2 separate regions of the Homo sapiens genome follow, and region 1 is linked to region 2. Evidence: fine-mapped expression QTL. Tissue or cell type: whole blood. Region 2 holds a variant in brackets; the other region holds the start of a gene. All regions are shown on one strand. Distances are from middle to middle.

Evidence for each region.
Region 1: RETREG1 starts here. The variant in region 2 is fine-mapped to the expression of RETREG1 in whole blood (TOPMed, PIP 0.93).

Annotation. Positions count from the first base shown.
Region 1 is chr5:16,614,574-16,619,906 of GRCh38, forward strand. It overlaps RETREG1 (reticulophagy regulator 1), which reads right to left and starts at 2,424. Exons shown (of 9, transcript NM_001034850.3): 1 at 2,079-2,424. The coding sequence starts at 2,398. It overlaps RETREG1-AS1 (RETREG1 antisense RNA 1), which reads left to right and starts at 1,353. Exons shown (of 4, transcript NR_109946.1): 1 at 1,353-1,913. RefSeq lists a silencer at 2,178-2,667.
Region 2 is chr5:16,638,075-16,643,448 of GRCh38, forward strand. No RefSeq gene overlaps it. Among named protein-coding and RNA genes, the nearest start is that of RETREG1, 24 kb to the left of the region's middle. The variant A/G (reference allele first, on the strand shown) is at 2,834.

The DNA of each region.
Region 1 (5,333 bases), 24 kb before region 2:
AATTGTTAGAACCCTAAGGAGCTGCATGCAATATGGTGACAGCCATCAAAATTACAAGTGCACATGCCCTCTGACCCAGCAATTCCACTTCTGGGAAGTTCTCTAAAATACTTGCATATATGCAAAATGATGCATGTACAGGGTCATTAGCTATAATGCTGAAATAGCAAAAGCTTGGAAACATTACTGCCTCAGTAGGAGACAGGTTAAGTAATTTGAGACATCCTTACAATAGAATTCTGAAGCAGCTGAAAAAGAACAAGGAAGCAATCACCAAGAAATACTAGGAAAAGGAAGAGCTCATATGTTATTCCACAATTTGCATAGAATATGGTGTATTTGCTGAAATGTGCACTATCTGGAAAGAGACACAGGAAACTAGCAACATTGCTGGCCTCCGTGAGGAAACTGGGCGGCCAGGGACTGGGATGAGAAAGAGATTTTCAAAATGCTTACCCTTTTGTACCTTTAAACTTTTGCACTGTGAGACTGTATTAGTTTTTTAAAGAAATAAAATTTAAAATTAAGAAATAAAATGTTAAGGCCGGGCGCAGTAGCTCACGCTTGTAATCCCAGCACTTTGGGAGGCCGAGGCGGACGGATCACGAGGTCAGGAGATCGAGACCATCCTGGCTAACACGGTGAAACCCCGTCTCTACTAAAAAAAATACAAAAAACTGGCCAGGCGTGGTGGCGGGCGCCTGTAGTCCCAGCTACTCGGGAGGCTGAGGCAGGAGAATGGCGTGAACCCGGGAGGCAGAGCTTGCAGCGAGCCGAGATCGCGCCACTGCACTCCAGCCTGGGCGACAGAGTGAGACTCCATCTCAAAAAAAAAAAAAAAAGAAAGAAAGAAAGAAAAGAAAAAGAAATAAAATGTTAAAAACATCGTAAACATTAGTGAGACACAGCCCTAAGACTATTAGACTATTGCCCAATCTAGCATAAGACAATATGTCCTTCTTATTTGAGTGCTCGCATTCACTCCATAATAAGATAGATTTGGAATAAACTCTATTCCAAACACAGATACCTAAGAGATCCAAAGTTAATTCACTTTCAGGGACCTCCGACAAGATACAGCTAGTTTTAAGAGAAAACACCAGGACTAGCAGAGATCTGAGGAAAATATTCATCTTGCTCAAGTTAACCTAGAAAATGACAGGCTGTCTATTTTGTGCAATTTATTTATTTCTCAACTTTAAGGTTCAGAAATCTCTGTCCTGTAACAAGGTATCTGTTACCGGAGTCTGATTATTCTGCACTGTGTAGGTCATGTTTGTTATGAGGACACTTAGCAAACAAAGAAGGTTTTTCTCCGCCCTCAATAGCGTGGTAACGGATGACAGGACACCACTTTCAACGAAGGAGACAGACATTTCCCTGGCCTTTCTGAAGAGCGCTTTTTGGAGAGACAAACCTGTTGCTCAGGGGCTGAGCATTCCCGTGTGTTCTCCCTGTACTTCACCTAAAAATATGCCTGTTTTCCACACTGTGCACACCCGGGGGTGGGTGCTGGGCATACTCCACCTGCTTGTTTGCCTCCCGTTTTCTCATCAGGGAGTAAACACAGTAAACCTAACGCTCCAGGGGAAGGAAAAAACAAATCATTCAGGGCCCATCTCAGGTGACTGATGAATGCGGCACCGTTTTGAACGGGTACCTAATCTGGTCCAGATATGCCTGCTGGGGCTGCAAGAACCAAGACACGTTCAAGCACGTTTGCTCCGGCAAGCTTGGGCGAGCAGGTCAAGACCTCAGAGTTTTAGAAAGCAGGGGCGAAGTTTTCAAGCACGATGGGAACACCTGTAGGTGCAGGTGCCTGAGGGTCGGCCGACCACCTCGCATCTGAGGCTGGATCCGCACACGGAGAACGACAACTGCTCACAGGGACGTGCGTCCGGAGGAAAGTTGCGGTGAGTGTCTACCTGTTCGAGACAGGTGGCCGAGAAAGTGGGGCAGGGCTGACAATTCTTCCTCCGCAGTGTCCCGCGGGCTCCCCCTGCACTGGGTCCCCGGGGCCCCGGGCGCCCCAAGGTCACCTGCCCTCCTCAGCGCCCCCACCTTGCCCAAGCTCTCACCAGAACAGCAGGTTGGCAGCGACGAAGCCGAGCAGGCTCCGCAGCGGCCTCTTCCAGCTCAGCAGCTCGTCGGCGCGGCAGCCCAGCCACAGCACCGGCTCCCCGAGCAGCCAGGTTACCGCGGCCGCCGCCCGGCCCGCGGCCTCCTCCACCTGCAACCCCGCGCCCTCCGCCGCCCCAGCTTCCTGCGCTTCCTCCTCCTGCTGCTGCCGCTCTGCGGGGGATGCCTGGGGCGGTGGCGGCGACGGCGGCGCCTGCTCCTCGGCGGCAGGAGCCGGGCATCCCTCCTCGGCGTGCTCCGGAGGCGCCGGGCTCGCCATCTTCAGCTGTGCTTCCAGACAGGGACGGGGCCGGGCGCGCGCGCGGGCGCGCCTGGGTGTGGGTGCCGCCGAGGGCGGGGCGGCGGTGGCGGCAGGTCCCGGAGCGGGGCGCGCACCGCGGGGCACAGGCGGCTGGGGGCCTTGTGACGCCACAGGCCACGGAGGGGGAGCCGCCCGGGAAAGTGGGTGCGGCCGAGTTCGCGCAGGGGCGGGGCCGGGCGCCGGGAGCTGGGCGGTGTCCCCGGGGGGCTCTGGGTTCCTGGAGGGCCTCTCCGGGACTCGAGGAAAACGACCTTTTCCCTTGCAGCGGCGGGAGAGGGCGAAGTGGAGGACTGCTGCTCGGTTCCGTATCCAAAAGAGACCCAAGGCTCCAGGCAAAATAGATTGGACATTTTCACTTTCTCAAGCCAGGGCCACCGGTCGCCCAACCAGCAGCCACTGAGGGTGGTATCGGGGCGCCCCTTCCCCTGGCAGCGTATTTCAGCCCCCAGAGACATCCCCCACCTCGGCCATCCCCAGCGCCTTTGCAGGGACAGCAGCACAACCATAGCAGAGGTCCTGGGCATCCTGGAAATAACGTGCTGGTATAAATGTTGGATTGAGAAAGGAAGAAAAAACATTTGGGGTCAATTTGGGGCCCTCTCGTTTGACACGGGAGGAAACACAAGGCCGCAGCGTTGGGGGAAGCTGCTTCCTTTCTCTCTCTTCTTTCTCTCTGTCTCAGGTGCTTCCTTTCTCTTCTCTGTCTCTCTCTCTCTCTCTGCCTCTCCCTCTCTCTCCCCCGTCTCTCCCCCTATCTTCCCCTCTCTCCTCCTATCTCCCCCTCTCTCCCCCTCCTTGTGGCTAGGTGATCTGGCTCAGAAGTGCACGTTGGCCCGCGCGTGCGGGGAGCTGAGAAGCAAGAGATTGGAACTTTGCACGTGTCAAGCAAGGTTTGGCCTGCTTTGAAGACAGTAATTTCAGAGCCACTCCGGTCTCTGCGTCACAAGCGGGCATCAGGGCAGTGGTGGGGCGGCAGGGGATCCTGAGACCTCCCATGCCCTCTCTTTGGCCCCGGTGCTTCTGGGTGAGTGTGGGGAGAGAGGAAAATAGTTGTTTATGCTTTTCACCATTTGCATTTTTAAATTTTTGTCTTCTTTAATCTTCCTGGTCTTACTTTTACTCTAGAATGACAGGTCCTTCCCCCCCATACTAAGGGTTCTGTCTGCGGATGCATCAGGGCATCTCATATCCCTTTACTGGCAACCAGCCTGCCTGCACAGGATGGAAGGGAGGGCAATTAAATTCCCTGCGTCAAGGGAGTCTCTAGGGGAATGTTCTGTAACGCTCCTCTGGGTGGCCATTGTAAACCTCTGTGTATACACACGTGGAATCCATTGATCTGTACATTCACTGCAGGTGTCTGCACTTTACTGCTTGTATGTTGTACTTCAAAGGAGTTATATTCCCAGAGCCCAGGCAAAGGCTTACTGAGCACCTACCGAGTACACAAAGCATTGCTAAGCTCTGTGGATGCAGCTTCCACCCACAGGAAGCTCCCAGTCTGATGAGGGCCCAGTTACAATTGTGATATCTGCCACAGCGAAGAAGCCTTCGCTAAGTGCTAAGAGATTCCTTACTTAAACTGTGCATCCAAAATTAGGGGAGGAGTGGAGGGATCAGGTTTCAAGAGCGTTTTGTAATAAATGGCCTCTGCCCTAAATTGTAGGGCCCCCATTAGTGTGGGGATTGGGGACAGGGGCAATAACTGCTGTTGGGAATTCAACAGGAGAGGAGGCATGGGGTTGCAGGTGGAGACGCACAGTTCCTTAAGTAACTCACCAAAGGGAATAGTGGACATTGAATGGTCTCTAGTAACAGGAGGCTTGGTTTTTAACTAAAGGTGATACAGAACATCTGGCATTTCCGACTCCCCTTCTTAGGAGTATCCTGACAACCCGATGGAAAGTGGCCTGGGTGTCAAGGAAAAAGCAACGTGGAAACAATTCAGGTTTCTTCCATATAAGAGAGACAATCTTTTCCCAGGTGTGGGTCCTCCCTCTTGGCAGTAGCGGAGAAGTTTTTGAAAGATAAATGATGCTTTTATTGTGTCATTTGGCCTTTGTTTGGCGCTTGATACAGCCCAGGGTTTGCTATTCTAAAATCTGTCACTAGACAGATGTGTGCTGCAGCCAGTGTGGAGAACATGGGGCAGGAGAGAGGAAGAACCAGGTGTCCCCGTTCCCCAGACCAGTGCTGATGTGCTACCAGAAATGGGTTTGCAAGATTAATCACCTTCCTCCTGCTTCCCTTGAATTCTAATTATTGTTGTCAGGATCTGTTGAAGTAGTAAAAGCTGCTGGCAACCAAGACACATAAAAGCTAAGCTCCAGTTGCTGTGTGTGGTTTCCAACACTTATTTATTATCTCTGTTTAATAATAAACCTCCTTCCCCACAGCTATGTGTTGTAAAGTCTATCCTTTCTCTCTCTCTCAAAATTACTATGGAGAAAATGCTATGCAACCTGTTTTGCATAAAAGGCTGGGCTAATTAACCTTTCCTTTTCACCTCCGACCTCTAATACTTACAAACTGTATGACAGAAGTAGACACTGGCATAGACATACAAATGGTGCTGCTGGGTGGGATTTTGTTGTTGTTTTGTTGTTTGTCTAATGATCTTTGTGATGCTTGAGTAATTTATTCAGGGCTAAGATTACAGAAACATAATGCTAACAATGGTTGAAATCAACCTTGTCCCCTAGTTTTAAGAACACGCCACATTCTTGAACTCCTGCAAGTAATCTTACTAAGATTCTCTTCTGAAATTTTATTGCTATATATTAGGAACAGAGTGATTAACACTAGTGAGCTAGATGATTTGACAATATATATCTGAGAAAAGGAAACTGGAAACGTGTCTGAGAAAAAAAAAAGTTCTAGCTACTGAATGAGA
Region 2 (5,374 bases):
CAGTCTGCCCGTTCTCAGATCTCCAGCTGTGTGCTGGGAGAACCACTGTTCTCTTCAAAACTGTCAGACAGGGACATTTAAGTCTGCAGAGGATTCTGCTGCCTTTTGTTTGGCTATACCCTGCCCCCAGAAGTGGATCCTACAGAGGCAGGCAGGCCTCCTTGAGCTATGGTGGGCTCCACCCAGTTCGAGCTTCATGGCCACTTTGTTTACCTACTCAAGCCTGGGCAATGGCGGGCGCCCCTCCGCCAGTCTCGCTGCCACCTTGCAGTTTGATCTCAGACTGCTGTGCTAGCAATGAGCAAGGCTCTGTGGGCGTAGGACCCTCCGAGCCATGCGCAGGATATAATCTCCTGGTGTGCCGTTTGCTAAGACTGTTGGAAAAGCGCTGTATTAGGGTGGGAGTGACCTGATTTTCCAGGTGCTGTCACCCCTTTCTTTGACTAGGAAAGGGAATTCCCTGACCCCTTGAGCTTTCCGGGTGAGGCGATGTCTTGCCCTGCTTCGGCTCACATGCGGTGTGCTGCACCCACTGTCCTGCACCCACTTTCTGACACTCCCCAGTGAGATGAACCCAGTAACTCAGTTGGAAATGCAGAAATCACCCGTCTTCTGCGTTGCTCGCACTGGGAGCTGTAGACTGGAGGTGTTCCTATTTGGCCACCTTGGCTCCACCCTCAGGGAAGTGACTTTTAAGCAGACACTTAAATGAAGTAAGGCAGCCAGTAATGTGAAATTCTGCAGGCAAGCCAATGCTAGACAGTGAACAGCAGGGGTGAGGATTGTGAAGCCAGAACCAGCTTGAAATGCTCAAGAAACAAGAAGAGCAGAGGACACCAGGGCTGGGGATGGAAAAGCGATGGGGATGAGGTTGGAGAGGTGGCAGAGTGGACCACAGTGCAGGACTTCGCAGACCATGGAAGGAGACTCAATTTTATTCTAAATAGTGATGAGAAACCAATGAAAGATTTTGTGCAAGAAGATACTTGATCCAATTTTCATCTTTATTTATCTTTTTGAGGCAGTCTGACTCTGTCACCAAGCTAGTGTGCAGTGCTGCAATCTCGGTTCACTGCAACCTCTGCCTCCCGGGTTCAAGCGATTCTCCTGCCTCAGTCTGCCAAGTAGCTGGGATTACAGGGGCATGCCACCACACCTGGCTAATTTTTTGCATTTTTAACAGAGAAGGGGTTTCACCGTGTTTGCCAGGCTGGTCTTGAACTCCTGACTTCAAGTGATCCACCTTCCTGAACCTCCCAGAGTGCTGGGATTACAGGCATGAGCCAGCACGCCTGGCCAATTTTCATCTTTAAAAGATGGTTCTGATTACCGATGACGCAACATGCATGGAGGCTGGGAGATCTGGTAGGGGCTACTGTAGTAGTCACAGAAAGAGAGAATGGTAGTGGTGGAGGTGCTAAGAAATGGTTGAATTTGGAAGACCAGGGGAGGTAGAAACAGTACATGTTCATGGACTAGATGTGGAATGTCAGGGACACAGAGGAGTCAAGAATGATGCCTGACAACTGAGCAAGATAGGAAATAAGGGGGAGAGAAAATCAGGCATTCTTTTCTGGACGTGCTATATTTCACCTGCCTAATACACATGCAAGTGGAGAAACCAAGTAGAAGATCAAATAGGAAGACCTTAAGCTCAAGGGAGAGAAAGTCAGCATCTACATGGCATGAAGGCCATGAGAATATGTAGGATAAATTGGAAGATGTTGTAGAAGATGCAAATGTTCTCTGCTAACCATTGGATTTTCACAGTGCAATAAGTGACAAATAGAAGGAATGGCTGCAGGGAGCTTAGAGAGGAGTTTTGAGAAAGTGGTCTTGGGTCAGGAAACAAGAGACTGAATTCATTAGGGAAGGGTGGCAGGATGGATGTGAAGGGGCTGCCAGCTTCTGAAGACTGTGATAAAGTGAGAGCTATCGTGGTTATGTTTCTCCAGCAATATTCAGCTGCTCAAATACAGGGCATTAGTCAGGGGTCCTCAGAGAAACAGATCCAATAAGATATATATAACCAGAAAGAAACGGATTATAAGGCATTGGCTCATGTGATTATGGAGGTTGATTATGGATACTTCATTAAGTCCCACAAGCTTCTGTCTGCAAGCTGGAGACCCAAGAAAGCTTGTGATATAATTCCAAGGCCTGAAAGCCAGAGAGCCAATGGTGTAGATTCCATTCTGGGTCAGAAGGCCTGAGAACCAGGTGCTCCAAGGACAGGAGAAGATCAATAAGGCAGCTCCAGTAATCAGCAGAGAGTGGACTCAACCTCCCTTTGCTAATAGATTGGGTAATGCCCACCCACAAGGGCTTTACTCAGTTCACCAATTCAAATGCTAATCTCTTCTGGATACACCCTCAGAGACCACACAGAAATAATGTCTGAGCAGTTATCTGGGCATCCCATGGCTCAGTCATGTTGACACATAAAATTAACCATCAAATATAGACTTAGAGAGTTGGATTTAGCTGTGGGTGGGATTTTTGAAGACAAATGTAGGGAGGGGAGGGATGAGGAGGGAGCTGAGGGTATATACAAATGAAATTATACTTATGGATGAGAGATTCTAGACTGTGGAAGGAGGGAGCAGTGGACATTGAAGAAAGTGGCCTCACTGGTTTGGAAGTCATCATGGGCTAGCATTGTTGGAGAAGTGTCACTAGAGGGACTGTGCTGAGAAAAAGTGGAAATGAGGCTGGGCGCGGTGGCTCACGCCTGTAATCCCAGCATTTTGGGAGGCCAAGGCAGGCAGATCACGAGGTCGGGAGATCGAGACCATCCTGGCTAACACAGTGAAACCCCGTCTCTACTAAAAAT[A/G]CAAAAAATTAACCAGGCATGGTGGCAGGCACCTGTAGTCCCAGCTACTCAGGAGGCTGAGGCAGAAGAATGGCGTGAACCTGGAAGGCAGAGCTTGCAGTGAACCGAGATTGAGCCACTGCATTCCAGCCTGGGCGACAGAGTGAGACTGTCTCGAAAAAAAAGAAGAAAAGAAAAAGAAAAAGTGAAATGAAATAGTTTGGGAGCAGCAGGCCAGAGTTTGGTGGGGAAGATTACTAGGAGTAAGGAGGTCAAAGGACCAAGAAGCCAGGGCCGCTGGATGGACTGTCTGTGAGAGGGAAGTCTCCAGAACAGTTGGGCAGAGAAAGACAGCCAAATACTTGTATGAGGAAGGGGTAAGGATGGTCTGTTCCAATAGCACTGCTTCAAACAATGTGAGGGTTTTCAGAAAAGAAGGAAGAGCAAGGGTCTGGAGGGGCTAAAAGAATAATCACCTCACCCCAGGCCCAGTGGCACAGAGCTGGGATGCAAACAACCCTCACTTGAGAAGGTTGCTGGGAATACACAGGTTTTCAGTTAGGGGTAGAAGGTCAGAGGAACTTAAGGGGTGGTGGTGATGGTTTTGCAGGTGACAGATCATTCGCTGCAGAGGGCACAGGCGAATGAGGAGAGAAGAGGATGCCTGCTGACTGTGATGAAAGGGAGGATAATCTTTCCTGACCCTTTTCAAGCACAAATGGAATCAGCAAAGCTCACACGAACAGTTATGAGTTACTCACATGAAGCCAAGTTTTGCTTCCTACCAGATTCTTGCCATGTTTTGAATTACTGAGTTCGCCAAATAAGAACCATGTGAAAATTAGTTATTATAGGTGATATCATTTATTACACTTTAATTATGTAACGTCTTTGAAGAAATAAACATATCCTACAGGTTTCATCTATCTTCAGACATCAAAGTTATACATTCTAATTAAAGTTCATTAGAAATTATTTTTAAAAAATGGGATTCCAAGCAAGAATGTATGTTAATTCACATGTAACATCCACTCAGGCCAAGGTATTCTGACCTAGCAATGATATCACACCTGACACAGCAGTTGCAATGGCGACTGCTGCTTAATTGAGTTTGCCATGGACCATTGTCATCCTCCAGGATCTGTCTGGTTTTTGCAGGGCCCACGCTTGTGAATTAAATGGCAACATGATGGGGTCCATCACCCTGCATCTTCTGGTCCTTTAGGGATGACACTAATTTCTGCCATTCATTTTGGAATGCTGTATCGCTTTGGACGCACTGTCTATGGTTATAGAGGGGGGTTCATTTCAGAGGATTCCCCTTGGTCCTTTCTACGATGATAGTCTTACCCTAAGCCTAGGAACCAACAAATGAAGCATGTCTATTTCCATTATACATTTGGGGTCCAGAGACGTGACCACTTGGATGAGTCTGCAGACCCAGTGGACACACCATAAATAGGCAGGATCTGGGCCAGTCTCCATGTTTTAGCTACTCCAATATTCTCCGCTCTAACAGGGGCCCAAGATGCCCGTTTGTGTCTCTAGGTATTAATGTCTACTAAGACCTCGTGCAACAGTCACTCAAATGTTTGGGTAATCCTTGGTATTCAGTGACCCAAGTATATCCCTTTGGTAAAAGCCTGGGAGACCCAGGACCTCACCCTCTTGCTGTGTGGTTTTGCAAGGCTCTGCCTCCTAGGGACACAGTCTTTTCTTTAGTCAATGCACCTGGGGCCAAACAGTGGCTCAACCCCAGAAACTGGACAAGGGATTGTGACTTTTTATTGGTGACTTTCAGGTTCCTGATCACGCATCCTTGATTTCTCTTGGTTATACAGATTGAACAATCTCTTGCTGGCTGCCCATCTGTTTTGTTCCTAGGGATGCAGTAACTCAATAGAATTTTGAGTTAACTCCCTTGAGTGTTATTTTTGGCCAGGGGAAGAATTTTCTGAATTTGGAGAAGAGAGTATTTGTGAATATTTCTTGGCCAGAGAGGCAGACTGTGACAGTGACAGCTAACTGTCCACCAAAGCATCATTCTCTCCTTATGTACAATACAGTTGCTATGGAAAGGGCAGTTGTCCAGCTTGAAGCTGCATTTCCCAGCAGCCGCTGCATCCATTTCTCAGCATCCCTTGCATGTAAGTAATGCCACATGATTAGGTCTTGCTAGTGGATTGGGAGCAGAAGTGAAGTCACTTCCAGGCTGAAAAGGTTAAGAAGTGAATGTCCTTATTCAACAATTCAATGGACTGTTTGTTTCCTTTCTGCCAGCTCTGCCCAGCTCCACCCAGGGAGACCTTGGAAGCTAAATGTAGAAGGCAGATCCCCTGTCAATCTGGGCCCCTGAAGAGCCGCAGGGAGTAACTACCACTCTCCCAACATGATGTCGATATTGGACTGTCACAGAAGCAAAAAATCATCTTTCATTATATTAAGTGGTTGAAACATAGGAATTTGTTGGCTAAAGCAACTAGTTACCCTAATACATACTCTATAAATTCTATATCAAATATAAAAATTGTTTGTCTGAATAGATTTTTACCAATTTTTTTT